Linked DNA regions of Homo sapiens: all the other regions are linked to region 1. The links come from fine-mapping of genetic effects on gene expression. A gene starts in region 1. Each other region holds a variant in brackets. All regions are shown on one strand. Distances are from middle to middle.

What was found. PIP is the estimated chance that this variant, and not a neighbour inherited with it, causes the effect.
Region 2: its variant is the best candidate, but not a certain one, in a credible set for the expression of FPR3 in whole blood (TOPMed, PIP 0.58).
Region 3: its variant is the best candidate, but not a certain one, in a credible set for the expression of FPR3 in whole blood (INTERVAL, PIP 0.67).

What each region holds. Positions count from the first base shown.
Region 1 is chr19:51,789,886-51,800,665 of GRCh38, reverse strand. It overlaps FPR3 (formyl peptide receptor 3), which reads right to left and starts at 5,509. Exons shown (of 2, transcript NM_002030.5): 1 at 5,335-5,509.
Region 2 is chr19:51,834,972-51,845,751 of GRCh38, reverse strand. It overlaps a transcript of ZNF577 not described here. Among named protein-coding and RNA genes, the nearest start is that of FPR3, 45 kb to the right of the region's middle. The variant G/A (reference allele first, on the strand shown) is at 5,104.
Region 3 is chr19:51,752,804-51,762,179 of GRCh38, reverse strand. FPR2 (formyl peptide receptor 2) reads right to left here and starts at 1,000. Exons shown (of 2, transcript NM_001005738.2): 1 at 950-1,000. The variant A/G (reference allele first, on the strand shown) is at 7,414.

The DNA.
Region 1 (10,780 bases):
GGGTTTCGGGCCATGAGAAACATCCTGCCCAACCACCTGACCACAAGGCACACGAACATCCTTATCACACTCTGCCGGGCAAAGGCCCAAGGAACATCACTATCACATTCTGCAGGAACAAGTGCCAAACCGCCTCATCATGGGAACATGTTATCAACATTTTCCCAGGCAACGGGCCATGCTCCACTTCCAGACCTCTCCCACCCAGGCCTGTAATTGCCCCAGCCTGTAAGCAGTGGTGGGCACTGGCACCTCTGCAGGTTTATACTGGACATAAATGCCTGCATTTGCTGTTGAGACACTCTGTCTTTGTGTGTCTTTCTTTAATCTCACTTTCTCTTCAAAACCGAACAATGAGCTCCACTTGCACTGGCCTTGTAGGCAGCCGCTTTTCTTTCCAGGGTGACCCGATCGACCTCTGAGGGGCTGGGAGAACGAGAAGTGATAGCACCAAGGAATGCAGCAACCAAGGAGGCACTGGCCTCAGCAGCACCGGCTCTTGCAAGGTGCCCTGGGGACTCAGGTGCAGTTGCCGTGTCACAGGTTAGAGTTAGGCGACTGGACCCTTTCACCCAGCTCCCCTTCACTGACACACTGAAGCCAGCATTCTGTCATCCTCTTCAACTTCACTATGGTGGAATCGCTGCTCCCCAGGAGCCTGGTGGCCCATGGCCCTATCATCAGCAAGATGGAGGTAGAGCTGAGGATCGAGCCATGGGCTACCGGGTGGCCAGCTCAGCATCCTGGCCAGCTCTCTCTGGCTGGAGGCCAGTACTTTGCTACTTAGAGCCAATACAGGCCGGACCACTACCGAGGCCCTAGGTCACCAGAGAAGCATGTATGGCTCAAGGGGCAACATGCCCTCCAGTAGTGGCCCCCTGTCAGGGGCCTGATCCCAGAAAGGGTTTCTGATGTCCCACAGGGAAACACCCTCATTACAATAGGATCTGCCCTCCTGCAGCTGCTGGGGAGCCTGGAGCCTCAAAGAGCCGTCCACGGTCACTGGAATTTCTGGAGAATCTCCAAGTTAACTGCTGAGGACAGCAGTACTAAGCTGCACGAAGCAGCAAAATGGAGCACCAGCAAGCAGTAGTGCCGTCTGGGCCAGACCGACTGGGCTGTCTGATGCAGGAAGTGCGTGAGTCATCCACACACACAGACATTGGGATTGTGTCCAAGACACAGCCAAAAGCCTGCCTGCTATGCCAGTAGTATTAAATGAAGCTCTTCAAGTTTCTCTATCAACTCAGCTGCTAGTGACCATCCTCAGCAGCCACCAGAGGTCAGGACAAAAGAACATCAAGAGGGGATCCAACTGCCCAGGTCGCTTTCGGGCAGCCTCACATCGTGGGTTGGATTGTGGGTGCGGCTTCAATGAGGCGACGACAGTGTTAAAGTTCGAGAGGTTTTAGTATTCACAGACCCCGGGAGGTACATGAGACATCTGGAGGCCACACTCAGAGGAGCAAGAGGACAGGCAGAAAGAGAGCTGACGGGGGTGGCAACTGGCAGTGGGAGTGGGGTGTGGCGCACTTCAAGTTCAGGGGCAAATGTCCGAATGGTTCCCTTTTTTCCTCTGTCACCCAGCTGGACTGCAGCGGTGTGATCTCGGCTCACTGCAACCTTCGCCTCCTGGGTTCAAGTAATTCTTCTGCCTCAGCCTCCCCAGTAGCTGGGCACCACCACCACGCCCGGCTAATTTTTTGTATTTTTAGTAGAGATGGGGTTTCACCATGTTGGCCAGGCTGTCTCGAACTCCTCGGCCTCCCAAAGTGCTGGGATTACAGGTGTGAGCCACCACGCCCAGCCAAGCTACAGCAATTTTCTATGATCATGAAAATCTGAGAATCTTCCCACCCTGGGCTATTTAGCCTCTTTAAGAATGATAGCAATTATGTAGCACTTGTTTACATCTAATACTCATAATAACACTGTGAGGCAGCCATCATCATCCCTTTTTTACTAGGGAGAATCCATGGCCCAGGGACTCCTGTAGTTTTTTCAGCATCATACCTAGCCAGTCAGTGGAGACAGGAAGATTTGTAAACCAGACCGAACAGAGCCACTACCTTTGCACGCTCAAGTGCTGCCATTGAAAGGCGTTCTTCCAAAATTACCAGGATAGGGTCCTGCCCTCGTATAATAAATTTTTTCTCCTATTTCTTTTACTCATTTCCTTCTTTTTTCCTATCATTATCAGTCACTTTCACTGAGGTCTTCCCAGGGACATTGTTTAGTGTAGCTCAGGGTTTCTCAGCTTTGACACCAATGGCATTTTGGGCTGGTTAATTCTTTGTTGTGGTGGACTGTTCTGTACACAGTAGGATGTTTAGCGGCACCCCTGGCCGCTATCCAGAGATGCCAGTAGCAACTCCCCATTCAGGAGTGACAACCAAAAGACATTGTCAAAGATCCCCTGGGAGGCAAAATACCTCCCACCCCCTCCCCCTGCCAGTTGGGTGTCACTGTAACAGTGTAAAGAGTACCAGGCTTTGGAGTCAGTTAGATCTCTACTCTGATCTTATCTCTGACACCTCGATGGTGTAAATTCTTGATCAGTGACATCTCTTTGAGCCCCCATTTTCCCCTCTGCAGAACTGAAATGGTTTTTTGATAAAGACTGATTTTCAGGGGAGGATTAAATAGAATAGACATGGACTGGAGGCTGAGGTGGGGGAATCGCTTGAACCCAGGAGGCAGAGGTTGCAGTGAGCTGAGATTGCACCACTACACTCCAGCTTGGCAACAGAGCGAGACTCCGTCTCAAAAAAAAAAAAAAAAAAAAAAAGAATAGACATGGAAATCATCTAGGATAGGTCGGTAAATCTGTAACAAATTAGAACTCTTAGCCCTCACCAGGCTGTGTGTTGTGTTGTGGGGTACAATCCCGAACCCTGCACTATGAAGCTCAGGGTCAGGACAAGAACGATGCTTATAGCAATAGTAGCTTCTACTTATGAACATTATCCACACACCAAGAGCTTCTCCCTTAACCCTCACAACTCCTCTCATAGGCTCTGTGGATGGGATGTGTTAATATGTGTAAGCACTCAACACACCCTGAGACACGGTGAATATTGATTAATGTTAGTTTTAATTTGTATAACCATTGTACAGACGAGAAAGTTAAGACTTAGATTGAGGTGGGATGTGGTGAGGGATAAAAGATCATTTTTTATACCAAAAAAATTGAAAATTGTATTTCTACTAGATCATTCTATCACATAATCACGCCCCCTCTCTTTCAAGAGAAACCTCCTTTGAAGCATATTTCTTTCCAGCTTCAACCCTATCTAGCCAAATGACCTCTCTGTAAGGTCTGTCTGTAAGACAGAATTTCCAGCCAAACATCCAAAGAGAATGTCTCTAATTCTTCCTTTTCCTTCTTCGCCTCAGCTGTTCTCCTTAATCCACTCCACATTGACTTCTGTCCTTAGCACTCCACCTAATGCATTTTCCCAAGGATGCTTATGACCCCCAGGCTGCCAAATCCAGTGAGTCCTTCTCAGTTTTTAAGACCTGATATCCCAATGACACAGGACCCATTGGATCACTTTCTCCCTTTTCAAACACATTTTTCCTATGCCATGAGATATATCCAAGAGATATGTGCACACAATACACTCTTGGTCGTCTCTACAGCTCGATTCTCTTCCTCTTTTTAGTCCAATTTACGGTGTTTTCTATTCTAAATTTGACTCTAAATGTTGGGGTATCTCACATTCTATAAATGATATCATCCAGTCTCTGGGATTAAACCATTATGCTGTCTTTTCATCTAAATTATCAGCCGTGGCCTCTCCCTGGCACTCAAGTCTGATAAAACCTCTCCCCGTGGGAGTCCCATAGACTCCAAACCTCACATGGTTTTACCAAACTGTTGATGTTCTCTGCCTCCCAGACCTGCCACTCTTCCAATATTCTGTATCTATTTGGAGATTAAATATTCAGTTGTTAAAGCTCCAGATCTAGAACTCACCTTTCATTTCTCTTTTCCTCACCACCCAACGCCATCCACGTCTTACTCATTCTATCTACAGAACATGCTGAATGCACAGCCAGAGCCATTGCCATCTCCACGACCGGTGTCCATGGCCCTGTCAGGCTTGGATATTTGCACAAGCCTTGCAAATAGCTTTTTCCTGGTCCTGCTGCCCCCTCCCCTAAGATCCATTCTCCAGACAGAAACCAAATGAGCTTTAAAAAGGTCCAATAAGATGGTGATGTTATTCGCAATACCTTCCGATGGCTTCCAGACTTCTAAGTTACCCTTATCTTAGGTTCCCTTATCCTAGGTTCCCTTATCCACTGCCACATGTGCCCTGTGCATCCCTCAGACCTCATCTCTGCACTCTCATCAGACACACTGGGCTCCACCCACTGGGCTCTAATTCCTTGAACTTGCAGCTCTTTGTCATCTCAGGGCTTCTGCTTTCTCTATTCCTTCTGCCTACCGTGCTCTTCGTCTTGAGCTTCCTGCACCTGGCTCATCCTGAATATTCATATTTCAGGTCAAATATTATTTCAGAGAGATCCCACCTCACCCACTCTGCAAAGCAGAATGCTCAGGTACAGCCTATCTCACCAGATACTTTTCTCCTTTATTTGTTTGTTCATTTATCTTCTCTCTTAAATACCCTCCACACTAGTACGTAAGCTCCACAGGACTATCAAGATCCTTCAATGCTACATCTCTACAATGCTACATGTCCAGTAGAAATATAATGTGTTAACTTTAGCTACATATGGGACTCAAAATTTTTTTGTAGCCACTGTTTTTAAAAAAGTAAAACACCTTTGGGGAAATTATTTTAGTAATAAATTTTATTTAATTACATATATGATAAAGAATTGGCCAGTCACATTGGCTCACGCCTGTAATCCCAGCACTTTGGGAGGCCGAGGTGGGCAGATCACGAGGTCAGGAGTTGAAGACCAGCCTGGCCAACATATTGAAACCCCGTCTCTACTAAAAATACAAAAAATTAGCCAGGCGTGGTGGCAGGTGCCTGTAATCCCAGCTACTCAGGAGGCTGAGGCAGGAGAATCGCTTGAACCTGGGAGGCAGAGGTTGCAGTGGGCTGAGATTGTGCCACTGCACTCCAGCCTGGGTGACAGCGCAAGACTCCATCAAAAAAAAAAAAAAAAAAAAAAAAAAAAAGAATGTTACTGGAACATGTAACCAAATTAAACACTGTTAATGAAATAGTTAACATTGTTTTCATACTAACGAAGTGGATTCTTCACTGGACTACGCTACTCCAGAGTTAGAAGGGCTCTGTCATATAGCAGGCATTTCAACAATAACTTTAAAATTTTCAGACCCCAACTTACCACCAGCTTAGATCCTTTTCCTGTGCCCAGTTCCTGGATTCCTGTGGAGCAACTCAGGCTCTAAGTACTTGTAAAAAGATGAAGTTATATGTTTGGTTTTAAGATCTTAATTGGCTTTGGTTATAAAGATGGAATCAGACAGCCTGTCATGCTATAAAACAAAATGAGTGTTTTGATAGTTAGAGCCAAGGAAGTTGGTTTTACAGGGATAGGAGGGCTAAAGAAAGCAGAAACAGAGAACAAAAACCTGATTGGTCATCTGGATGTTGCATTTTTTTTGTGCAGCAGGAATAGAGAGACAGCAATAAGGAACAACTGATTGATTGAAGTCAAGTTACCACAGATTGCTTTTTTTTTTTTTTTGTAAAGATGAAAGCAGACAGAACTTCATGTTCATGCCCACTGAAACTGGCCTGTTTTAGGAATTTGTCCATTTTCTCTCTCTCCTGATTTCTCAAAAGTTCAGATACATTAGTTTTGGTTTGGTGATGTGGAGTTTTAGTATGACTGACTCCATTTGGTTTGCTTTGTCGAACCTAGTACAATAGGTCAGTCCAAACCACTTACTTGCTGTTTTTATAGAACAGGCTTCAGCAGAGACTTAGTTGAAGGACACGGGGACAATGGAGCTGGAATCAATCCAGTGACACAAACTCAGGGTTTCTTACCATTCCCAGAAGACACCTTGGAGATGTTCTCAGACGATTTATCTTGGAAACTTATGTGTCTGAATGTTCCTTCACCTCTAGCCTTCTGTGGGAGACTGGAGTTCATCCTTCCAAATATCAAAGGCCAAGAAATCTGAGAGTCCAGGCCCTTTCTTTTCAGAGATTCAGGAAAATGAAAGAAACAATTACCAAGGTGAGAAGAATGAGAGGAAAAACAATAAAAAAACAAAGATGCACGGTGAAACAAAAACTCGATTCTCTACTTTCACAATCCTTCTGACCAAATATACTTTTTCTCTACACCAAGAAATTCTCCAATTCTCTGGGGACACCACCTGGGCCACCTGCAATTAAAAATTCGGTTATGATGCTGTCTACCTGGATTCAGCTCAGATCCGAAAAGCTAAAGGGCTCACTCCCACAAACTGTTCTCAGATCAGATCAGACATCTGTTGCAAGTCCCAGGTGGCTACTTGTACTTCTGACTGACAGGCTATAAATTGGGTGTTCCAATGACACCAATAAATTGCTAGAATGGCACACAGAACTCAGGAAAGCACTTTGTTTGCATCTGTTGCTTTATATAAGGAATATACCTCAGGAATAGTCCATTGGAAAGAGGCATATGGCAGGTATATGGCAGGGAAGGGGTTGGGTGGTGCATGGAGCTTCCATGCTCTCTTCAGGCAGCCACTCTCCCAGCACTCCTGAGTGTTCACCAATGTGGAAGCTCATCAAATCTCATTGTTCAAGAGTTTTTATGGAACTCAATCTCCAGTCCCTGCCTCCCCTTCCTGGAGATCAGTAGGTGGGGCTGACAGCTCCAACCCTCTAATCCCTTGGTCTTTCTGGTGACCAGTCCCATCCTAAGGCCATGATCTCCTTAGCATAAACTCAGCTATGATCAAAAGGGGCTGTTTATGAATAACAAATAATACTCCTATCACTCAGGGAATTCCAAGGGTTTTAAGAGCCCTGTGCCAGAAATCTGTGACAAAATCAAATATGCTTTGAGGTATTTCATACCTCAGAGTTACAAAGAGAAGCAGTAACTAGGAGCATGTAGAGAGGTAAGGAAGGTAAATGAGAGACACTGTACACTCCACACCATTGCCGAGATTAACCCCCTAACCTTCTGCCCCTAGGGAGATGCTCTATGGACTACTGATCTAAGGAGATGGGCTCTTTCTGAGTTTTTAAACACCATCAGAATGTTGTTCTCAAGCCCAAGGAATAGAACCATGAAAAACAGTGGAGAGCCACAAAACAAGAGTCAACTATTTTCTATTTTCTCTCTGATTCACTGGATGTTTTCAGTGATAAGGTAGAGTAAACCAATGAAGCACATAAGCCATGGAGAAATTTATTATTAAAAAAAGTTTTGGAAGGGGATAGATCTGGAGTTTGAACAAAAATTGAGTTTAATGTCACCCTTCCACTCCATCATCATATTGGTTTTCTTCTAGGGCTTTCTTGAAAGTGACCACAGAATGGCTGCCACTGTTCTGGACATTGCATCAACAGGCCCTCCCGAGCCAGAATCATGAGACAGGCAGAAAATGTGACTCATTCACATGCCTCTTCCATTTTATTACAGAGGGAAACCTTGTCCAGAGTCTCTTCAGGACCTCTCCTTGTCTTTCATTGCCAGAGCATGCCATCTCTAGACCAATCAATGGCCAAGAAATAACAAAAATACCGATACATAAAAATAAAGGTCAGGGACAGTGGCTCACGCCTGTAATGCCAGAATTTGGGGAGGCCAAGACAGGAAGATTGCTTGAGCTCAGGAGTTCAAGACCAGCCTGGGCAACATAGTGAGACCCCATCTCTAAAACCAAAAAAATATTAGCTGGGTGTGGTGGTGTGGACCTGTAGTTCCAGCTACTCAGGAGGTGAAGTGGGAGGACTGCTTTGTCAGGGAAGTTGAGGCTGCAGTGAGCCATGATGATGCCACTGCCCTCGAGCCTGGGCAATGAGCAATACCTTACCTCAAAAAAAAAAAAAAAAAAAAAAAAGACAAGTTGCTCATATTGGCTTAGGCCAATCATGATTGCTTTCCTAGGACAGTGGCACATTGCTACCTGCCACCTGATTAAAATGGAATTTACTTATCAGTATAATAAAGGGTGGTGGGTATTGCATGAGGCCTCTGAAGAGGTGCTCCCTTGCTGGCTCCTGCAGACATAGAGCTTAAACAGACATGTGCCTTACCCTGGAGATGCCGACTACCCAGGTAAAGAGGTGACAGCGTCACTCTACTGTGACTAAGCATAGTCTTATGCACCCTTTGTGCACAATGGTGTCCTCTGCCATTTCCCTAAGCAGTCACAGTAGAGTGGGGGTATATAGTGATAGACAGATGCCTGGTTCATTATGAGATTTCCCAAAAGGAACAACTAACTGAGACTGACAGGGTCCAGGGTCACTTCCAAGTGCAATGCAGATAACATCCGGGATGAATCTTAAAGACTCAGATAAAGAAGCAAAAAAAAATACATTCCAGGCAGAGGAGAGTGAAAGCACGCAGGAAAGGGTCAAAAAATAGCAGGTTACCTGCGGTTATTGGAGCATAGATGGTGAGGCAGACAGCAATAAACACTGAGTGTGTAGCAAGTGGCAGAAGCCATCTGTTGGAGGGTCCTGAATGCTACAAGAAGGACTTGGAATTTCTTCATAATAACATGAATAACCATTTAAGCAGGACAGTGACTTGTCAGGTGTGTGCTTCTGAAAAATATTGTTCTGTAGTCCTGCAAAGGGATGCCTTTGAGAATGTTTCTAATTGGAGACAGAGATATTAGAATGGAGAATGTTGCCAGAAATCAAGGTAAGGTTCTTGAAGAGCTACCCAGGGCAGGAATAGTGTGATCAAGAAGAGGCGTAGCTTAGAGACAGATTGTCCAGGCTGAGTAGACCAGCCTTGGAGACTGGATGGCTGTGGGGAATGGGGAAGAATGAGTGCTCTTTATAAATTCCACATTCCTAAAGTTACTATTGCTGCATCTGCTACAGTCTGAATGTTTGTTTCTCCCCTCCCCAGATTTGTATGGGAAATCCTAACCCCCTAGGTTATGGTATTAAAAGGCGGGACCATAGGGAGGAGATTAGAGCGTGATGGTTGCACCCTCATAAATAGGATTAGTGCCTTTGTAAGAAAGCCTTGAGGGAGCTTGTCTGTCTTCCACCATGTGAGGACATATGGAAGGCGCTGTCTATGAGTAATGGGCCCTCATCAGACATGGAATCTGTTGGCATCCTAACCTTGGTTTTTCTTTTTTTATTCTTTCCTTTTTTTTTTTGAGAGAAAGTCTTGCTTTGTCACCCAGGCTGGAGTGCAGCAGTGCAATCTCGTCTCACTGCAACCTCCACCTCCTGAGTTCAAGGGATTCTCGTGCCTCAGCCTCTCAAGCAGCTGGGATTACAGGAATGTGCCACCATGCCTGGCTAATTTTTTTTTTTTTTTCTGTTAAAGATGGGATTTTGCCATGTTGCCCAGGCTGTTCTCAAACTCCTGGCCTCAAGCGATCCCAAACTGCTGAGATTATGGTGGCATGAGCCACTGTGCCCAGCCTTAATGTTGGTTTTTCTATCCTCCAGTACTGTGAGTAATAAATTTATGTGGATCATAACTTACTCTAATAGATTTTGTTATAGCAGGTCAAATGGGCTAAAAGACTAATTTGTACCAAGAAGTAGAGGTATTATAATTAGAAATACCTAAAAATGTGGAAATGGCTTTGGAACTGGGTAATGTGAGAGGCTGGAAGAGTTTGTGAGTGCTAGAAAAAACTCTACATTTCCATGAATGTAACGTTGAGGGTGATTCTGCTACAGGCTCAGAAGAAGATTGCAATAATGATCAGAGTATTGGTAGAAATGTAGAAGTAGGTCATTCTGATGAGATCTCAGATGAAAATGAGAAATATTATTGGAAACTGTAGGAAAGGACAGCCTCATTATAAAGTGGCAAAGAACTTGGCTGAATTGTGTCTGTGTCCTTGTGCTTTGTGGAAGGTAGAACTTCTGAGTGATGGAATAAGATGTTTGGTGGAAGTTACATCTAAGCAAAGCATTGAGGGTGTGGCATGGCTTCTCTTGATTGCTTATAGTAAAATGCAGGAAAAGAGTTACATAAAAAATGGCAATTATAGGCCAGGCACGGTGGCTCACTCCTGTAATCCCAGCACTTTGGGAGACCGAGGCAGGTGGATCATGAGGTCAGGAGATCGAGACCAGCCTGGCCAACATAGTGAAACTCTGTCTCTACTAAAAATACAAAAATGAGCCGGGTGTGGTGGTGAACACCTGTAATCCCAGCTACTCAGAGGCTGAGGCAAGAGAATTGCTTGAACCTGGGAGGTAGAGTTTGCAGTGGGCCGAGATCGCGCCACTGCGCACCCCAGCCTGGGTGATAGAGTAAGACTCCATCTCAAAAAAAAAAAAAAAAAAAAGGCAATTATAATCAAAAAGGAAGTAGAACCTAAAGATTTGGAAAATTCTCAGCCTGTAAAAAGTGCAAAAGTATGTTCAGGGGAGAACACCAATGGTGTGGGTAAGTGAACATTTGATACGGAGATTAGCATGGATAGAAGCCAGATAGTATTCATCAAGACAATGGAAGAATGACTCTGAAGGCATCTCACAGATCTTCACATCTTCCCTGCCCATCACAGGCACAGAATGCAAACAATTTCAAGGTTTTGGCGGCAAACAATTTCAAGATTGTATTCCCCATATTCCAGTATAGCACTCCTTGGCCTTCCAAGCTTTGGCTC
Region 2 (10,780 bases), 45 kb before region 1:
TGAAATAAGCCTCACAGAGAAAGACAAATATTGCATGATCTCACTTATGTGTGAAATCTAAAATTATTGAATTCATAGAAATGGAGAGTAGAATGGTGGTTACCAAGGCTGGGGGAGGGAGAGGGTTGTGGAAATGTTGGTGAAAGAATAAAAAATTTCAGTTAGATAAGACATGAACTTTTATGTTTAAGAGATCTATTGTACAACATGGTGACTGTAGTAAATAACAAGGTATTGTATTATTTCTTTTCTTTTTTTTTTTGAGGCAGAGTTTTGCTCTTGTTGCCCAGGTTGGAGTGCAATGGTGCAATCTTCGCTGACCATAACCTCCACCTCCCGGGTTCAAGCGATTCTCCTGCCTCAGCCTCCCGGGTAGCTGGGATTACAGGCATACACCACCACGGATAATTTGGTATTTTTAGTAGTGACCGGGTTTCTCCATGTTGATCAGGCTGGTCTCAAACTCCGACCTCAGGTGATCCGCCTGCCTCTGCCTCCCAAAGTGCTGGGATTACAGGTGTGAGCCACCGTGCCCGGCCAAGTATTGTACTCTTGAAAATTGCTTAAGAGAATAGATTTCAAGTGTTCACACCACAAAAATATGGCAAGTATGTGAAGTAATACATATGTTAATTAGTTTGATTTAGCCATTCCACAGTATATACTTATTTCAAAACAACGTATTGTACTGATAAATACATACAATTTTATTTGTTAGGTATAGGAAATGAATTAATTTTAAAAAGAAAAGTCTTTTTATTTACGCGGACTTGCTCTTTATTATTTCTACTTTAAAACACATTTTTGTTTGAATTCATAGATGCTGACTTCTTAGAATGAGGCAGCTCCTGTAAAGGAAAAAAGTATATCTCATGTCCAGAAATTCATCTTTGTTGAGGATACCCTTGATGAGACATTATCAGAATTGCAGGACAAACAGATACTAAAAGTACTGGCCATCTTCTGAAAGCTCTTGAACATGACAAAGTTCCAAGTGAGGTGTTTATTTACTTCCCAGTAGATTTTTAGAAGTTTATAACCATATATGTAATCAAAGAGAAAAATGAATATAAGTACACTCTGGCTGGCAGGGATGTGGTTAGACTAGGAGACAGAATAAATGATCAAGAGTAGCCAGTTAGGAAGGGAGATCTATCTCCATGTCGTAGGGTCCTGAAAGGTGCTAATAATTAGACAATTGCCATATAAGTAGCAGGATCTAGAATTAAGTTGCAAACATTTTTGTGGCAGTACTGACAACCATCACAAGAGAATTTTTAAAAGTTACAAGATTTACTTTGTCCAGAAGGAGAAAGCACATAAAATCGTTGATATCAGTAAATATTTCCTGGGCATCCAGTGTGAAGAAATGTCTCTGATGGATCTTCCTCTTCCTCTTCAGTTTTTGTGTGCCAGCATATGGACCCAGTGAACAGTAATCTTTAAGGAAATGTGGGAGATATAAAAGGCACAGCTAGGAAACTTAAAATCTCTTCTTTATAAAAAGAACATAATAGTGCTTAAACAAGGGTTATTGTGCAGATTATTATGTTAATATATGTAAAATTTGTAGAATGATACATAGCACATAGTAAGAAGTCTGTTTTTCTTTATGAGTATCATCATTTAATTTGTAGCACAATTTCCAAAATGCAATTCTGACCGTAACTTACTTATGTAAAAAAAAAAAAAAAAAAAAAAGTGTAGTGGCTATCGAGTATCTTAAGGAAATGTGTACCCTTTGCTCCAAGACATGTTCCTGCTTTTCAAATGGGCATTTCTTCTCTTCAGCTTCTCCTGTCTTAATGAACTATTTGCATTTCTTTGAACGCAGAATGGTATTTAATACAGATACATATGTTGCCCCCTTCCAAGGAAGCCCCCATTTCTTCCACTTCTTCCTTTAGAACGCACTACTAATCATGCTACCAGCTTGTCTACCTCTTCAGAACAATTATGGCCTTACCTAATTGTGCTCACATATTAGCTTGAGCATACTTCTGTCTTAGTCCTTGCTAATCCATAATACCATGCAATACATAGGCTTTCTGCATAGGACTGTATTTGCTACTCTGTGCAAGATCAGAAACACTTGAAGGAAGGACTAACCTTTATTGTTTTTATTGTAATATGTATAATGAATTACATTAAATGCTCCTAAGGTGGGTTACAGATGGTTTTTAGGTAGTTTAAAGGTTTAAAAGACACTTTACATCGGGCAAATGAATGAAAGAGTAAACAAGTGAATGAAGAATGCACAAAGAAAAGATAGTTTTTAATGTATTCCACTCACAAAGTGCAAACCAAAACTAGGCACAGGAAAATCTTCGTTTGTGAATCTTTGTGGTAAAGATAAAGAGAATAATGTCCTACGAGTCTTATAGACTGAATTTTATTATATTAACTCCAGAATTTAAAAGGATTATGTTATTATAGGGTTTATCATCATTCAATGATGTGGCTGTTGACTTCACCTGGGAGGAGTGGAATCTATTAGACCCTGTTCAGAAGAACCTCTACCAGGATGTGATGTTGGAAAATTACAACAACCTAGTGTCACTGGGTAAAGACAACTTTCCTAAATATCTCACTGTAAGCCGATTAATTGCCTTTTTTTCTATTGCCACAATTTGTGGGTACTCTGATATCCTCAATGATTTTGGACTTTGACTTTTAGAACTTTTTTTACTTTATAATCGTACAGTGACCATATGTAATTTCACTTTCCAAATGAAAGGTTTCTGTTCTGCTGAGATGTATACTGTGCATTTCCTGAAACAGAACTTTTTCTCACAAGCTCTAATGCTGCTCAGATTCTCTGTGATTACCTCTTGACAGGTTGTCAAGCTACCAAGCCAGAAGCAATATTCCAGTTGGGGAAAGAAGAACAAGGAATAGTAGAGAGAGAATTCCCAAGTTGGTGCAGTCCAGGTGAGTGAAACCAATGCGATGGGAGTTAGTGGAACCAAAGTACTAGTTGGCCATTGATGGGTTGGCACCCTTGTTATTTTAATACATTTTCTCATGGTCTGTGAACCTTTAAGGGTGACTTAGAGTATAAGTGAAAAGAGGTCTTCAATATGAACAATTTCTCCTCCTCTTACTATCTGTCATAGTCCACTTGTGCTGCTATAACAAAATACTTGAGACAGGGTAATTTATAAATAATTGAAATTTATTTCTCACAGTTCTGCAGGCTGGGAAGTCCAAGATCAGGGTACCAGTATCTGGTATCTGCTGAGGGCCTTTTTGCAGCATCCTCACATGGCAGATAATAGAACGGCAAGTAAGGATGAATGTTGGGTTCTCATATGGCAGGAGAGCAAAAAGTAGCAAACCCACTCCCACAAGGCCTTTTTATCATGGCATTAACTTGCTCATGAGGTGGAGCCCTCATGACCTAGACACCTCCCATTAGGCCCCACTTCCCTGTCACTGCTGCACTGAGGATTAACTTTCTAGCAGATGAGTTTTGGGGGACACATCAGACCATAGCACTATATTTCTATGTATGACTCATAGGAGATGTGCCTCTCTTTCTCCCTCTGGTTGAGATTCTTGCCTATTTGGCCCTTGCCTTTTTGCTTAGTCACTTTTCTTTTGCAGCCTATTAGATACAACCACCCTTCACCTCCTACCAATATTTATAGACCTCTTCTAGTATGCTTTCAAATATTCCTAGAATCTTTTCCAAGTTTGATGACACCTGTGTCCTTCAAGCCTATTATATATTTCTTTTATTGAATGTCTCAGACTTACACTGTGTATCTGCAGATCACTTTCTGAATTTTTCTTGTATATGAACTTGAGATTCCATCCCTCTCCATTTCATGATAATGGTAGAATTCATTGTTTTTTGTTTGTTATTCTCTAGAACTAATGTGGCAAGCTTATGATTGGCATCAGAAAGATTCAACTGATTCTCCTGCCTCAGCCTCCCAAGTAGGTGGGATTACAGGTGCCTGCCACCATGCCTGGCTAATTTTTGTATTTTTAGTACAGATGAGGTTTCACCATGTTGGCCAGCCTGGCCTCAAACTCCTGACCCCAGGTGATCCACCCGCCTTGGCCCCCCAAAGTGCTGAGATTACAGGCATGAGCCACCGCATCGGGCCTAATATTTTCTATCTATAGATTTTTTTTCTTGAGTTTTAGGTGTCCATGTCACTGCCAGTACTGTGGCAGTGCAGTTTCAACAGTAGAACTAGCAAGACCATGCTAGAAAAACTAGAAAAACGGAAAAAATAAAATAAAATAGAGATCCCCACAACACACTTTTTGGCTCATGTGGATTCATTTTCTCTGTTTTCTGGCCATGAAGGCTGGTTTTTCTTAGTGTCCTTGCTCTTCACCTCAGCAGCGAAATTTCTGTTAGGTTTTGAAGGGAAGGCAAGGGTTAAAGAAAGACATGGAGTGGTGGCTCTACAGCAAATGCAGGCTTTATGTCCAGCATAAGACCTGCAGAAGTGAGGAAACAGCCTAATGCCAGTGCCCACCGCTTATAGGCTGGGGCAATTTATAGGCCTGGGTGAGAGGGGCCTGGGGGGACATGTTCCCAGGATGAGGCGATTCCCGCGGAAAGTGGTGTTCCTTGCACTTTCTCCCAGCAGAATATGATAAGAGGCAGGATGTTTCTCACAGCCCGAACCCCCTGTGGAATGTTTCACTTTGATCAGGTTTTGTGAAATGGTGGGGGGCTTCCAAAATGGTGCAGTTTGGACTAACAATTTCCTAATTTGTCTTACCCTTAGGTCAAAGGCAGGAGATATAGACAGAAAAAAAATGAGGGAACTTACTCTGTGCATTGCTTGGTTTTCAACTCTATACTTTATTCTCCAATCTCTTTGCAATTATTCATTTTAAAAGTTCTCAAGTAGTTTTTATTAGTTTTTTTTCAAAAGTTTTAACTCTAACCAGTGGGAGTGATAAACTAGGGGGCTTACTTAATCATGGCTGGCACCATACATTACATGTATTTATTTTTAAGGGATAAAACATCCTTGTATTCCTGGGAACCTGATCTTGAAGTTCATTCTTTTCATATAATGCTAGATTTGATTGCTAATAATTTCTTCATGACTTTTACATCTATTTCACATGACT[G/A]TTCAGAATACACATGATCTTTCTGAAGTACAACTAATATTCTCTTGGAATGGGTTGTGGTTGTCAGTGTCTGCTCCACAACCAGTTTGGCCCAGTTCTTACCCCTCAAGGTCTCTCTCCACAATCCCACACCCAAATGTACCCAGGTGGCTTCCCCCTTACTACCTGAGCTCCTCCAGACCCAATTCTGGTTTCCTAAGACTTCTCTCGACAAACACATTCCCAGAATCCACCCTCTGCCTGCTCCCACTTCCTTGCTCCACTGCCTAGTCTTTGATCAACAGATCCCAAAACTTTTTCAAATATGGCTGCGCCTTACCTGCTGCTTTAAGGGCCTATGGGGCTAAATAGGTGCAGCCATCTTCTGCTTAGGTCTTGTCTGTGATTGGCTTAGGGCTGTTGCTAGATTTGAAGTAGACAGGTGAGAACGCTGAATGTTGTTCCTGAGAATGCACAACGCTGCTGGTAGCAGCTGGGGAAGTGGTGAAAAGGACAGTAGAAGATCAGCTGCATTGCCTCTTTCCTTTCTAGCACGATGGAATTTAGTCGCCAGAAAATGGCCATCTCGCTATCTGTAAGAAGCATCTTCCAAGACTGCTGCTTCCATGTGCACGCCTGGTTTCAAAGTCTGTAGACATCTTGTGTTCCGCGAAGGTGCTACTGAGTCTGCACAAGAGCGTGACTACGGCAGTGAGTGAAGAGGTTACGGAAACCTGCTAGTCCTCAAGCGAATGTTTGTGCGACTCCAGCTGTAGGGTGAGTTTCCCAGCGCTGTTGGGGTCCTTGACCGGATGCGACCAGCATGGGGTACTTGTGGAGGTTTGCGGTGTAAGAAGGCTTCAGGGAATGGTCAGTGGAATCTGAAGCTGGGGGTTAGCCACTGAGGGCTTCTGTGGTCTGGATTGGAGCATCCTCAGCGTCGAGTGGAAGTCGGTGTCTGGGGAACCAGGAAAAGCGAGCAAGCGATGCGGAGTTGGGGGCCATTATGGCTATCGGTGATGGGAAGGGCTGGGGAAGGAGGTACTTCATTGCTTCAGATGCCAGGGATTTGGGTGCTGTACTAAGTACCCAACCATATTTCCCAACATTTCATACTGAAACCTTTCAAGTACACTGAAGGAATAGCAACATGGTGGTCACCTGTGTACCCATCACCTAGATTCAGCAATTATTAAAATTGTGTCATAAATACTTGGTATATGTGTATGGGTATGTGTGTGTAATTTCTTCTTATTATTATTATGTTTAATCATTAGAGAAAGAGTCTTGCTCTGTCACCCAGGCTGGAGTGCAGAGGGGTGATCATAGCTTACTGCAGCCTCAACCTCCTGGGCTCAAGTGATCCTCCTGTCTCGGCCTGCTGAGTAACTAGGACTAAAGGCATGCTCAACCACGCCTGGCTAACATAATTTATTTCTTGATGAATCCTTTGAAATAACATTTTAGTCCTGATTCTTTATGCCGATTTTGCTATTTACTGTCTGCATGACTTTGGGCAAGGTATTGAAATGCTGTAAGTTTTACTGTTAGGAAAAAATGATGGTATCTCCTTTGCAAATTTCTTTTGAAGATTATTGGAATGGTGTGCCTGAAATGCTAGCAAAGTGCCTGGTTTATAGTAGATAATTGAGAAATGTTCTTTTATTATTATTCAAATATATACCTTTCTGTGGCAATTTTAATTATCTAATTAACTTTTCCTTTTCTGCTTTCATATAGTTCGTTTTCCTATATGAATTTATCTTTGAGTACATATTTGAAAACTTCTGAGGATTTTAAATAAAGATCTCCTTACAACAATTATTTATTACAAAAATTGTTACATGCTTGTAAATAAAAAACCAGGCAGTAATAGTAAAAGCATCTACAATTTACCATCTATACCAAACTTATCTTTTGTACTATGTTATTAAATTGAACTGCATAGTATGGATATTTCATTTTCTTAAATACATAAAGCAGATCAGGTTAAACGCATATTTAAACTTTTAAATTAAATTTAAAATTAAATTCTATTTAATTTAATATAAATTTATATATATTTATGTTTATACTTATATATAAATATTTATATAATTATATAATAAATATAAAAATTTAGTTTCTTTTTTTAACCCTCTTATACCAGGGAGAATGGCTATTTTAAAAAAAAATTTTTTATTATACTTTAAGTTCTAGGGTACATGTGCACAACGAATAATTTAGTTTCTAATTAAACATTTAAATGCATATTTAACCATTGGCTTTTTTTGCTTAATAAAGGTAATGTTTGATAATATGCTAATGACAGTCTTTCATTTCTGTCCCATCTTTGCATCAATCGTGTATTTGCCTAATCATTCCAATACTCCCACCCCGCTAAAAATTTCCATCTAGAATTGTGTATGTGATTTCCTTGATTTTTAGAAATATGCACTTATATGTGGATACCTAAAGAACTCAATATTTAGATTTTTAAGTTTTATAAATAGTATTATAATATTTGTATTTGTTCTCTGTTGCTATGTAGAAATGACTACAAATTTAGCAGTGTGAAACAACACTCATGTTTTAGCTCATAGCTCTGTAGGTCAGGCATCTGAATGCGTTTGGCTGAATGTTCTGCATAGGATCTCAAGGTCAAAATCAAACCAAGGTGTCATCTGGGCTGGGTTTTTATCTGAAGATGGGGGAAGAAGCTGGCTCCAAGCTCAGTCAGGTGGTTGGCATAAATCAGTTCCTTTGCACTTCTGTAATAAATGCAACTTAGTCATAGTACAATATTTTTCTATATATTTTGGGATATGGTTTGCTAATATTTTATTTAGGATTTTTGTAGCTATACTTATAAATGAAAATGGACTATAAATATTATCATGTAACCATCATCTGAAAATAGATATTTATATTGACTCCAAAGTTTTTTTGTGCCCCTTTGCAATTATTGATCCCCTTTCCCCACCTCCTGTTCCCTGACAGCCACTCACCTCATTTCTGTTACTATAGTTATTTGTAATCTAGAACGTCACACATATGGAATTATATAAGAGATAGTTTTTTGTGTCTGACTTTGTGCACTTAGCATAATGCTTTTGAGATGCATTCATGTTGTGAACAAATGTGAATTTGAAAGAGCCAGTCTTTTGGGATGGATCCTGTATGGTTACTTGGGCTTAAATTTAAAATAGAACCTACCAGCCATTTGCTGTCTAGAGGTCATACAGGTACTCTAAGTCCCCTCAAAACTCACACCTTTTAATTTTGGGGCTTGGAAACCAACCAATCAGAGCTCACCTGAAGCAACCAATCAGAGTTCACCTTCCCTGGCCAATCAGCGCTCAGCTGTATCAACCAATCAGGACTGAGCTGTGTTAACCAATAAGAACTAAGTAAGTTTCACTCTTTCTTGGCATCAACATAGGTGATAGCAACATAGGTGATAGGGAACCTGGGCAGAAACTTTTGCTTTAAAACCGGAGCCTTCCCTCTGTTCCCTGGAACACACCTTCATTTTACAACAAAGATTGTGTTTCTGTAGTTTGCAGCCTTTTGCTGGAATAAAGTCTGTTTCCTTCACATTCCTTTTCAGATAATTTTTTCTTTTCTTTTCTTTTTTTTTTTTTTTTGAGACAGAGTCTCACTCTGTCACCCAGGCTGGGGTGCAGTGGCGCCCTCTGGGCTCACTGCAACCTCTGCCTCCTGGGTTCAAGCAGTTCTCCTGCCTCTGCCTCCCAAGTAGCTGGGATTACAGGTGCGTGCCACCATGCCCGTATAATTTTTGTATTTTTAGTAGAGACTGGATTTCACCATGTTGCCTATGCTGGTCTTGAACTCCTGACCTCAGGTGATCCACCCGCCGCAGCCTCCCAAAGTGCTGGTATTACAGGCGTGAGCTACTGCACCCAGCCCTTTTCAGGAACTTTTGTTCACAATGTTGTTGCATTTATTAGCAATTCCTTTTTAACTCTAACATTCCATCATACAGATATGCTATAGTGTATCCACTCACCAGTTGACAGACATCTGAGTTACTTCCAGGTTTGACTTTTATGAATAAAATCTCAATGAATGTTCATCTGAAAATGTTCGTGTGGAAACAACAACAGAACTGGTAATTCCATTAAAACGTAAGCAAAGGACATGAATAGACGTTTTTCAGAAGAAGACATAGAAATGGCCAACAGGTACATTAAAAAAGCCAAACATCACAAATCGTCAGAGAAATGCAAATCAAAACCACAATGAGATATTATCTTACCCCCGTCAGAATATCTATTTCAAAAAGTGTAAAACATAAGTACATTTATTTGAATGGTAAGATTTTATGATGATTTCACACTGTTTTTACCACCTTAAGATTTAATGAAGTGTCTGACAATAAAGGCAAAAAAACCTTATTATACTAGTCAGATACTCCAGAAATACTACATACAGAGATTTTTGAAGAGTAGAAATTAAATTACTTGGCTTCATTTTGGTTTCACTGCAAATTTCCACATGATGAGTAATCATTAGAAACAAAGGTTTTTATTATTGTTTTCAAGAACTAGGTATTTTTTTCTTCCATTTATTGCCATGACATCAATGTGAGAAAAACTTTTTAAAACCACTAATGTGTAAAGTATGTGTCACTTTAAAATTGCATGATCCAAACATTACTTAAGATATTGATTTCAAGGTCGGGTGCGGTGGCTCACGCCTGTAATCCCAGCACTTTGGGAGGCCAAGGCAGGTGGATCACCTGAGGTCAGTAGTTCAAGACCAGCCTGACCAACATGGTGAAACCCCATCTCTACTAAAAATACAAAAATTAGCTGGGCGTGGTGGCAGGCATCTGTGATTCGAGCTACTCAGGAGGCTGAGACAGGAGAATTGCTTGAACCAGGGAGGCGGAGGTTGCAGTGAGCCGAGATCGTGCCATTGCACTCCAGCCTGGGGAACAGAGCAAGACTGTCTCAAAAAAAAAGATACTGATTTCAGTTATGTCTGGCCATGTCAGTGAAAACATAACTTTTCTGAAATATTGGTTAAAATAAAAAATTTATTAATATTAATTTTAACTTCAGTTCATAAAAATCACTTTATTCTTCAAGCACAATTTTTGTATTGAACAGATGTATTTAAAAGTAAACTAGTAAGTGTTCCTTTTTTCCCTGTCTTTTGGAAGTGTTTCTTGTAAGACTGATGTTACTTCTTTCTTAAATATTCAGTAGAATTCACAGGTGAAACAATGCAAGCCTGAAGTTTTTTTTTTTTTTAATGGGTATTGATTAGAAATTCAATTTCTTTACTAGGTATTGGACTATTTAGATTTTCTAATTCTTTTTATGACAGTTTCATATGTGTGCTTTTCAAGGAATTTGTCCATTTCATCTAAATTGTCAAATATAATGTTATAAAGTGATTTGTAATATCATTTTAGTGTGTTTAGTCTCTGTAATAATGTTCCTTTTTTCATTCCTAAGATTGGTCATTTGTATTTTCTCTTTTTTCTTGATTAGTATTGCTAGAAACTTATCCATTTTATTGATATCTTAACATAACTTTAATATTTCCTCTTCTATTGATCTCTATTTCATTTATTTCCACTTTTAAAAGTTATTTTCTTATATTTTCTTTAGATTTAATTTGATATTTTTCTAGCTTCTTGAAATGTAAACTTAGATCATTGAGTTCACACACTTATTCTCTAATAAAA
Region 3 (9,376 bases), 38 kb after region 1:
TGAGAGGCAGAGTTTGCAGTGAGCCGAGACTGCGCCACTGCACTTCAGCCTGGGCGACAGAGCAAGATTCTGTCTCAAAAAAAAAAAAAAAAAAGGTCCAATAAAATGGTGATGCTATTTTCAACACCTTCTAATGGCTTCCAAACTTCTAACTTATCCTTATCTTAAGTTCCCTCAAGTACCCCTGGACCTGCCCTGTGCATTCCTCAGACCTCATCTCTGCACTCTCGTGGGACACACTGGGCTCCACCCATAACGGGCTCTGATTCCTTGAACATGCAGCTCATTGTCATCTCGGGGCTTCTGCCTTCTCTGTTCCTTCTGCCTACCATGCTCTTCCTCTTAAGCTCCTCACACTTGGCTCCTTCACATGTTTATTTATCTTTGAGTTAGAGTTTCACTCTTCTTGCCCAGGCTGGAGTGCAATGGCACGATATCGGCTCACTGCAACCTCGGCCTCCTAGGTTCAAGCGATTCTCCTGCCTCAGCCTCCTGAGTAGCTGGGATTACAGGCTCCCACCACTACGCCTGGCTAGTTTGTTGTTTGCATTTTTAGTAGAGACAGGGTAATGCAAGCCCTAAATGCCAGCCACACACGTGACTTACAACTTTCTAGTAGCCATGTTAAAAAAGTAAAATCATTGGGAGAAATTAATTATAATAATATGTTTCATTTAACCCCGCAAATAAAAAAAATCATTGGAACACGTTACCAAAATGAAAGTTATTAACGAGATAAATTGTATTATTTTGATCATACTAATGATTAAACTACACTAAGTATATTTTACACTTAAGCACATTTCAGATCAAGATAGAAACATAGGCACTCAAAAGCCACCTGTGGCAAGTGGATGCTCCATTACAGCACTGCTCTAGAATTTAGGAGGTGTTTGTCAGAGAGCAGGAGTTCCATTGATAAATTTTAAATTGTCAGTCCCCAACTTACCAGCAGCTAAGCTCCTTTTCCTGTGTGCTTCTTGGCTTCCTGTGGAGCAACACCGGCTCTAAGGGCTTTCGCGGAGACTACTGAATGATGGGGGAGGGACAATGGAGCTGGAGCCAATCCCCTAACAGAAACTCAGGATTTCTTATAATTTTCAGAAGACACCTTGGGTATGTTGTCAGCGGACTCTTCTTAGAAACCAATGTGTCTGAATGTTCCTTCACCTCTAGCCTTCTGTGAGAGACTGGAGTTCATGCTTCCAAATGTCAAGGGTCAAGGAATCTGAATGTCCAGCCCTTCCTTCTTCAGAGTTTCATGAAAATGAAAGAAACAATTACTGAAGTGGGAAGAGTTTCAGCCACGCAATCAAGCCCAAATATGATGATTAAGTCAAACTCAATTCTCGACTTATGCAGTACTTCTGGCATCAAATGTGTGGGTCTTTTCCATATCAAGCAATTCTCCAGTTCTCTGGGGACACCACTGGGTATCTCACAATTCAATTCAGCTCCGACGCTGTCTACCTGGAGTTAGTGTCAGATCCCACAAGTTAAAGGGCTCACTCTCCCAAAACTGTCCTCACTTCAGACACCAATCCAAGTCCCAGGTGGCCACCTGTACTTCTGACTGACTGGCTATAAATCGGGGGTGGGGGGATGTTTATAACCCCTTCCTCTGTTCTGATAATTTGTTAGAATGGCTCACAGAACTTAAGAAGGCACATTACTGGCTGGGCGCTGTGGCTCACACCTGTAATCCTAGCACTTTGGGAGGCCGAGGTGGGTGGATCACTTGAGGTCAGGAGTTGAAAACCATCCTAGCCAACATCATGAAACCCCACCTCTACTAAAAATACAAAAAAAATTAGCTGGGCGTGGTGGTGGGCACCTGTAATCCCAACTACTTGGTAGGCTGAGGCGGCAGAATCGCTTGAACCTGGGAGGCGGAGGTTACAGTGAGCCGAGATTGTGCCACTAAACTCCAGCCTGGGCAACAGAGCGAGACTCCATCTAAAAAAAAAAAGAAAAGAAAAGAAAAGAAGAAGGCACATTACCTACATTTACTCGTTTGTTCTCAATGGAGTTCACATATCGAGAAATAAAAGGTGGTAGGTATTGTATAGGTGCAGGTCTCTAAAGAGGTGCTTCCTTGCTGGCTGCTGGAGACATAGAGATCAATCAGACATGGGCTCTGCGGACCACCTGAATAGAGAGGTGAGAATGCAGTGCTTAGTTACAATAGGGTGGGGGCACGTAGTGATAGACAGATGCCTGGCTCCTTGTGAGGTCCTCTAAAAGGAACCACTAACTCAGATTCACGGATCTAGAGTCAATATCCGGAGGAGGGAACATGTAGGCTGAGTCTTAAAGACTCAGATAAAGGAGAAAAAATAATGCATTCTTGTCAGAGGGGAGTAAAAATACCCACGAAAGGGGTCACAAAAAAGCAGGTTACTTTTGTTTACCAGAGCATAGATGATAAGGCAGACAGCAATAAGCATTAAGTATGTAGAGGGCGGCAGAGGCAATTTCTTGGTTGGTCTTGAATGCTGTAAAAAGAACTTAGAATTTCTTCTTAAAATTTCTTTCTTATATATATATATATTTTTATTATTATACTTTAAGTTTTAGGGTACATGTGCACAATGTGCAGGTTAGTTACATATGTATACATGTGCCATGCTGGTGTGCTGCACCCATTAACTCGTCATTTAGCATTAGGTATATCTCCCAATGCTATCCCTCCCCCCTCCCCCCACCCCACAACAGTCCCCAGAGTGTGATGTTCCCCTTCCTGTGTCCATGTTTCCTCATTGTTCAATTCCCATCTATGAGTGAGAACATGCGGTGTTTGGTTTTTTGTCCTTGTGATAGTTTACTGAGAATGATGATTTCCAATTTCATCCATGTCCCTACAAAGGACATGAACTCATCATTTTTTATGGCTGCATAGTATTCCATGGTGTATATGTGCCACATTTTCTTAATCCAGTCTATCATTGTTGGACATTTGGGTTGGTTCCAAGTCTTTGCTATTGTGAATAGTGCTGCAATAAACATACGTGTGCATGTGTCTTTACAGCAGCATGATTTATAGTCCTTTGGGTATATACCCAGTAATGGGATGGCTGGGTCAAATGGTATTTCTAGTTCTAGATCCCTGAGGAATCACCACACTGACTTCCACAATGGTTGAACTAGTTTACAGTCCCACCAACAGTGTAAAAGTGTTCCTATTTCTCCCCTTTCCAGCACCTGTTTTTTCCTGACTTTTTAATGATTGCCATTCTAACTGGTGTGAGATGGTATCTCATTGTGGTTTTGATTTGCATTTCTCTGATGGCCAGTGATGATGAGCATTTTTTCATGTGTCTTTTGGCTGCATAAATGTCTTCTTTTGAGAAGTGTCTGTTCATATCCTTTGCCCACTTTTTGATAGAGTTTTTTGTTTTTTTCTTGTAAATTTGTTTGAGTTCATTGTAGATTCTGGATATTAGCCGTTTGTCAGATGAGTAGGTTGTGAAAACTTTTTCCCATTTTGTAGGTTGCCTGTTCACTCTGATGGTAGTTTCTTTTGCTGTGCAGAAGCTCTTTAGTTTAATTAGATCCCATTTGTCAATTTTGGCTTTTGTTGCCATTGCTTTTGGTGTTTTAGACATGAAGTCCTTGCCCATGCCTATGTCCTGAATGGTAATGCCTAGGTTTTCTTCTAGGGTTTTTATGGTTTTAGGTCTAACATTTAAGTCTTTAATCCATCTTGAATTAATTTTTGTATAAGGTGTAAGGAAGGGATCCAGTTTCAGCTTTCTACATATGGCTAGCCAGTTTTCCCAGCACCATTTATTAAATAGGGAATCCTTTCCCCATTGCTTGTTTTTCTCAGGTTTGTCAAAGATCAGATAGTTGTAGATATGCGGCGTTATTTCTGAGGGCTCTGTTCTGTTCCATTGATCTATATCTCTGTTTTGGTACCAGTACCATGCTGTTTTGGTTACTGTAGCCTTGTAGTATAGTTTGAAGTCAGGTAGCGTGATGCCTCCAGCTTTGTTCTTTTGGCTTAGGATTGACTTGGCAATGCGGGCTCTTTTTTGGTTCCATATGAACTTTAAAGTAGTTTTTTCCAATTCTGTGAAGAAAGTCATTGGTAGCTTGATGGGGATGGCAGTGAATCTGTAAATTACCTTGGGCAGTATGGCCATTTTCACGATATTGATTCTTCCTACCCATGAGCATGGAATGTTCTTCCATTTGTTTGTGTCCTCTTTTATTTCATTGAGCAGTGGTTTGTAGTTCTCCTTGAAGAGGTCCTTCACGTCCCTTGTAAGTTGGATTCCTAAGTATTTTATTCTCTTTGAAGCAATTGTGAATGAGAGTTCACTCATGATTTGGCTCTCTGTTTGTCTGTTATTGGTGTATAAGAATGCTTGTGATTTTTGTACATTGATTTTGTATCCTGAGACTTTGCTGAAGTTGCTTATCAGCTTAAGGAGATTTTGGGCTGAGACAATGGGGTTTTCTAGATATACCATCATGTCATCTGCAGACAGGGACAATTTGACTTCCTCTTTTCCTAATTGAATACCCTTTATTTCCTTCTCCTGCCTAATTGCCCTGGCCAGAACTTCTAACACTATGTTGAATAGGAGTGGTGAGAGAGGACATCCCTGTCTTGTGCCAGTTTTCAAAGGGAATGCTTCTAGTTTTTGCCCATTCAGTATGATATTGGCTGTGGGTTTGTCATAGATAGCTCTTATTATTTTGAGATACGTCCCATCAATACCCAATTTATTGAGAGTTTTTAGCATGAAGGGTTGTTGAATTTTGTCAAAGGCCTTTTCTGCATCTATTGAGATAATCATGTGGTTTTTGTCTTTGGTTCTGTTTATATGCTGGATTACATTTATTGATTTGCGTATATTGAACCAGCCTTGCATCCCAGGGATGAAGCCCACTTGGTCGTGGTGGATAAGCTTTTTGATGTGCTGCTGGATTTGGTTTGTCAGTATTTTATTGAGGATTTTTGCAGCAATGTTCATCAAGGATATTGGTCTAAAAAAAAATTTCTTTCTTACAATTTCTTCTGCTTAAAAGCTATTTAAGCAGGAGAGTGACTTGTCAGGTGTGTGCTTCCAGAAAACATTGCTCTAGAGTCCCCCTGCAAAGGGATGGCTCTGAGAATGCTCCCAGTTGGAGGCAGAGATCTTAAAGGGTAAGAAGTTGCCAGAGATCAAGGTGAACTTGTCGAATAATTGCCTGTGCTGGAGTAGTGTGCTAGAGAGGAGGTGTAGTTTAGGGAGAGATTTCCAGGCTTGGTAGACTGAGCTTGGAGACCAAATGGCTCTGGAGAATGAGGAAGCATGAAGGGTCTTTATGAAGCCCACATTCATAATTCATAATTGCTGTATAACCACCCAAATCATAGCATGTAAAACAACCATTTCATTACGTTCATGGATTATGTGGGTTGGGAATTAGGATAAGGCACAGAGATGCTTGTCTCTGCCACCCAAAACTCAAAGGTCTGGGGGGTGACTAGAAGACTGTGAATTGGAGTCATCTAGAGCTCCTTCATTCACATGTCAGATGCCTGGGTTGGAATGACTCAAATGCTGAACTAGGCTGGTATTGCACCAAGTGCCTACAGGCAGCCTTTCCAGCATGGTGGTCTCAGAGGAATCAAAGTCCCAGGACAATGGCTGCCTTCCTCCAGAACACGTGTCCCAGGAGAACCAGAAGATGCTTCCTAGCCTTTTTTGACCTAGCCTTGAAAGCTACGTGGAAGTCATTTCTACCACGTTCTTTGGTCAAAGTAGTCCCAACCCTACCCAGGTTCCAGGGGAGAGGCGATACAATATGCCTGCCTTCCTGTCAGTGGAAGGAGTGTCCAAGAATATTGTGGCCATTTTCTTCAGAACTGTTGCACCAAGGTAACTGCGTGGATTTGGGGGCTGTCATTGAGACGAGAGTCAATGAAAAGAAGCAGAGTGTTTAGTTTGTTAGAGCTGCCATAACAAAATACCATTGGCTGGGTGGCTACAACAATAGAAATATATTTTCTCACAGTTTTATCAGCTGGAAGTTTAAGATCAAGGTGTCAGCAGGGTTGATTCCTCCTGAGTCCTCTCTCCTTGGCTTGCAGATACCGCCTCCTCCTCATGTTTTCACACAGTTTTCCCTCTATGCCTGTCTGTGTCTGGATCTCCTCTTTTCATAAGGATATCAGTCATATTGAGTTGGGGCCCACCCTAATGACCTCAGTTTCAGCTAATTACCTCTTTAAAGGTTGTATCCCCAAATACAGTCACATTCTGACATGCTGGGGTGTATTGGTCAATTCTCATGCTGCTAATAATGACATACCCAAGACTGGGTAATTTATAAAGGGAAGAGGTTTAATGGACTCACAGTTCCATGTGGCTGGGGAGGCCTCGCAATCATTGCGGAAGGCGAAGGAAGAACAAAGGGACATCTTACATGGCAGCAGGCAAAAGAGAATGAGAACCAAGTGAAAGGGGAAACCCCTCATAAAATCGTCAGATCTCGTGAGACATATTCACTACCATGAGAACATTATGGGGGAAATCGTCCCCATGAAACAACTATCTCCCACCTGGTTCCTCCCACAACACGTGGGAATTATGGGAGCTACAATTCAAGATGAGATCAGGGTTGGGACACAGCCAAACCATATCATGGGGTGAGGGCTTCAACCTAAGAATTTGAAGGGGAATGTGACACAATTTAGTCCTTAACAGAGTTGTGGGAGAAGGTGAGGAGAGCAAAGGCTGCAGATGAGTTTGAAAGGAAACAGGAACCCAAAATGATGTGTCTGAACATCAAGGGCAGGTCTGAGCTAGAGACAGGGGTCTGGTGAATGTTAGCTGAGGTGTGGTTCAAGTTTTAAGCATGGATGGGTTCACCGCAGAGAACGTGAAACAGCAGATAGAGAGGTTTATGTAATTACTAAGATATTGATAATACTTATTGCACTGGAATTCATGCCAAGTGCTTTGTATCACTGATCTTATTTGTTCTGCTCCAGAAAACACCTCTGTAAGTATCATTGCTCTCAATTCACAGGTGAAGTGTCTGGGACCCAGTGCAGTTAAATCAGGGGTCAAATCTAGCCACCGCTTGTTTTTGTATGGCCTGAGAGCCAAGAATGGCTTTAATATTTCTTACCGGCTAAAGAAAATCAAATGAAGGGTATTTTGTGCCATGCAAAACTTATATGAAGTCCAATTGTCGTGTTTTAAATAAAGTTTTATTGACATACAGTCATGCTCCTCATTTACAACTTTGCTTGTGGCTGTTTTCAGGCTACAACAGCAGAGCCAAGGAGTTGTGATGGAGACCCTATGGCCTGCCAAATGAAATATATTGACCATCTGGCTCTTCATAGGAAATGTTTGTGGCCCAGTGCAGTGGTTCCGTCCTGTAATCCCAGCACTTTGGGAGGCCAAGGCA[A/G]GTGATTGTTTGAGGTCAGGAGTTCAAGACCAGCCTGGTCAACGTGGCAAAACCATATCTCTACTTAAAAAATACAAAAATTAGCCAGGCGTGGTGGCGGGCACCTGTAATCCCAGCTACTGGAGAGGCTGAGGCAGGGGAATCACTTGAACCTAGGAGGCAAAACTGCAGTGAGCCAAGATCACACCACCGTACTCCAGCCTGGGTGACACAGTGAGACTCTGTCTCAAAAAAAAAAAGTTGGGGGAAATGTTTGAGACCCCTGGATTAGCTGGCTTGTCCGGAGCTAGTGAACAGTAGTCCTGGGATTCTAGTCCAGGCAATCTGGCTTTACCACCTCAGTCCAGTGCTTTACTGGGAGGCTGTGCTGCTCGCCGAGGCCATTTCTCATGTTTCAGTTACCAGAAGAGTCAGGGACTTTTGCAGCATAGGCAGGAATACTCCCATTCCGGTCAACCCTAAGACATCTTCCCTTTTAGCCTTACGCAAACACAGAAGTGGAAGTCCATTTTAAGACTTTCGCTTTTTTCTTCACCATAGTCACTTTGGAACACACACTTGGCTCTATTTTTGCCCAACCTAGTGTGCTAATCACAGGCCATTTGGTAGCCAGGAAGAAAACCTACTTATGTTTTAGAAAAGAGGGCTCATGGGAAACAGGTAGGGGTGTCCCAGGACCCCCGTTTTAGGAAGAACAGTCAGACTTCAAAAGACCTACAAATTTTTCTGGCAATTACTCTCTGTGGAGTCCCTTGTCTCTTGTTTTCTCTTGACATTTGGGCCCTTCTCCTCTGTGCATAATGATGTCCTCTGCCATTCCCTTTATTTTAATCCCCTTACAAAGTGTTGGCTTCCATGTGACTCCTAGGCACGTCTTCATTTGTTACCCTTCATACCTTGGGAATCTTCTAAAATGCATCTGTTGTTATGATCCCAAGAAAATGTTTATAAAATACAAACACAAATGTTTATAAAGTACAAATGAACATATCACCCTTCTGATTAAAGATCTTCAGTGATTCTCCATCTCATCCCCATCCTCCTGGTGTGGGATGCTGGAGTGTAGCAGTCCCCAACATTTTTGGCACCAGGGACCAGTTTCATAAAAAACAATTTCTCCATGGGGTGGCGGGGTAGATGGTTTCAGGATGATTTAAGCACATTGCATTTATTGTAGACTTTATTTCTATTATTATTATTACATTGTAATACACAATGAAATAATTATACAACTCACAATGATGTAGAATCCGTGGGAGCCCTGAGCTTGCTTTCCCGCAACTAGACAGTCCCATCTGGGAGTGATGGGAGACAGTGACAGATCATCAGGCATTAGATTCTCATAAGGAGCACACAACCCAGATCCCTGGCATGCACAGTTCACAGTAGGGTTCACACTGTTATGAGAATCTAATGCCGCCACTAATCTGACAGGAGGCAGAGCTCAGGCAGTAATGCCAGCAATGGGGAGTGGCTATAAATACAGATGAAGCTTCTCTTGCTCACCTGCCAGTCACCTGCTGTGCAGCCCACTTCCTAACAGGCCACAGACCGGTATCGGTCTGTGTATTGGTCTATGGCCTGGAGGTTGGGGACCCCTGCTGTAATGTGAAGTCAGGAGCTGTGGTAGCTTTCTTGGAGCCATGAAGTGGCAATCCCCAGGAAAAAAAGTCACCATATTAGGGATAAAAAAGAGAAAAGATTAAAATGAATGTAGTTCTTGATGATATTTTCCAGATATAACCTAACCTAGTATTACCCTCTTGCAAAATTCTTGTAAAGTAAACCATAAATTTCGTCTTGGTTCTAAGCTAAGCTTGTCCAGCCCATGGCCTAAGATGGCTTTGAATGCAGCCCAACACAAATTCATAAACTTTCTTAAAACATTATCAGATTTTTGGGGGATTTTTTTTTTTTTTTTTTTTTTTAGCTCATCAGGTATCGTTAGTGTTAGTGTATTTTA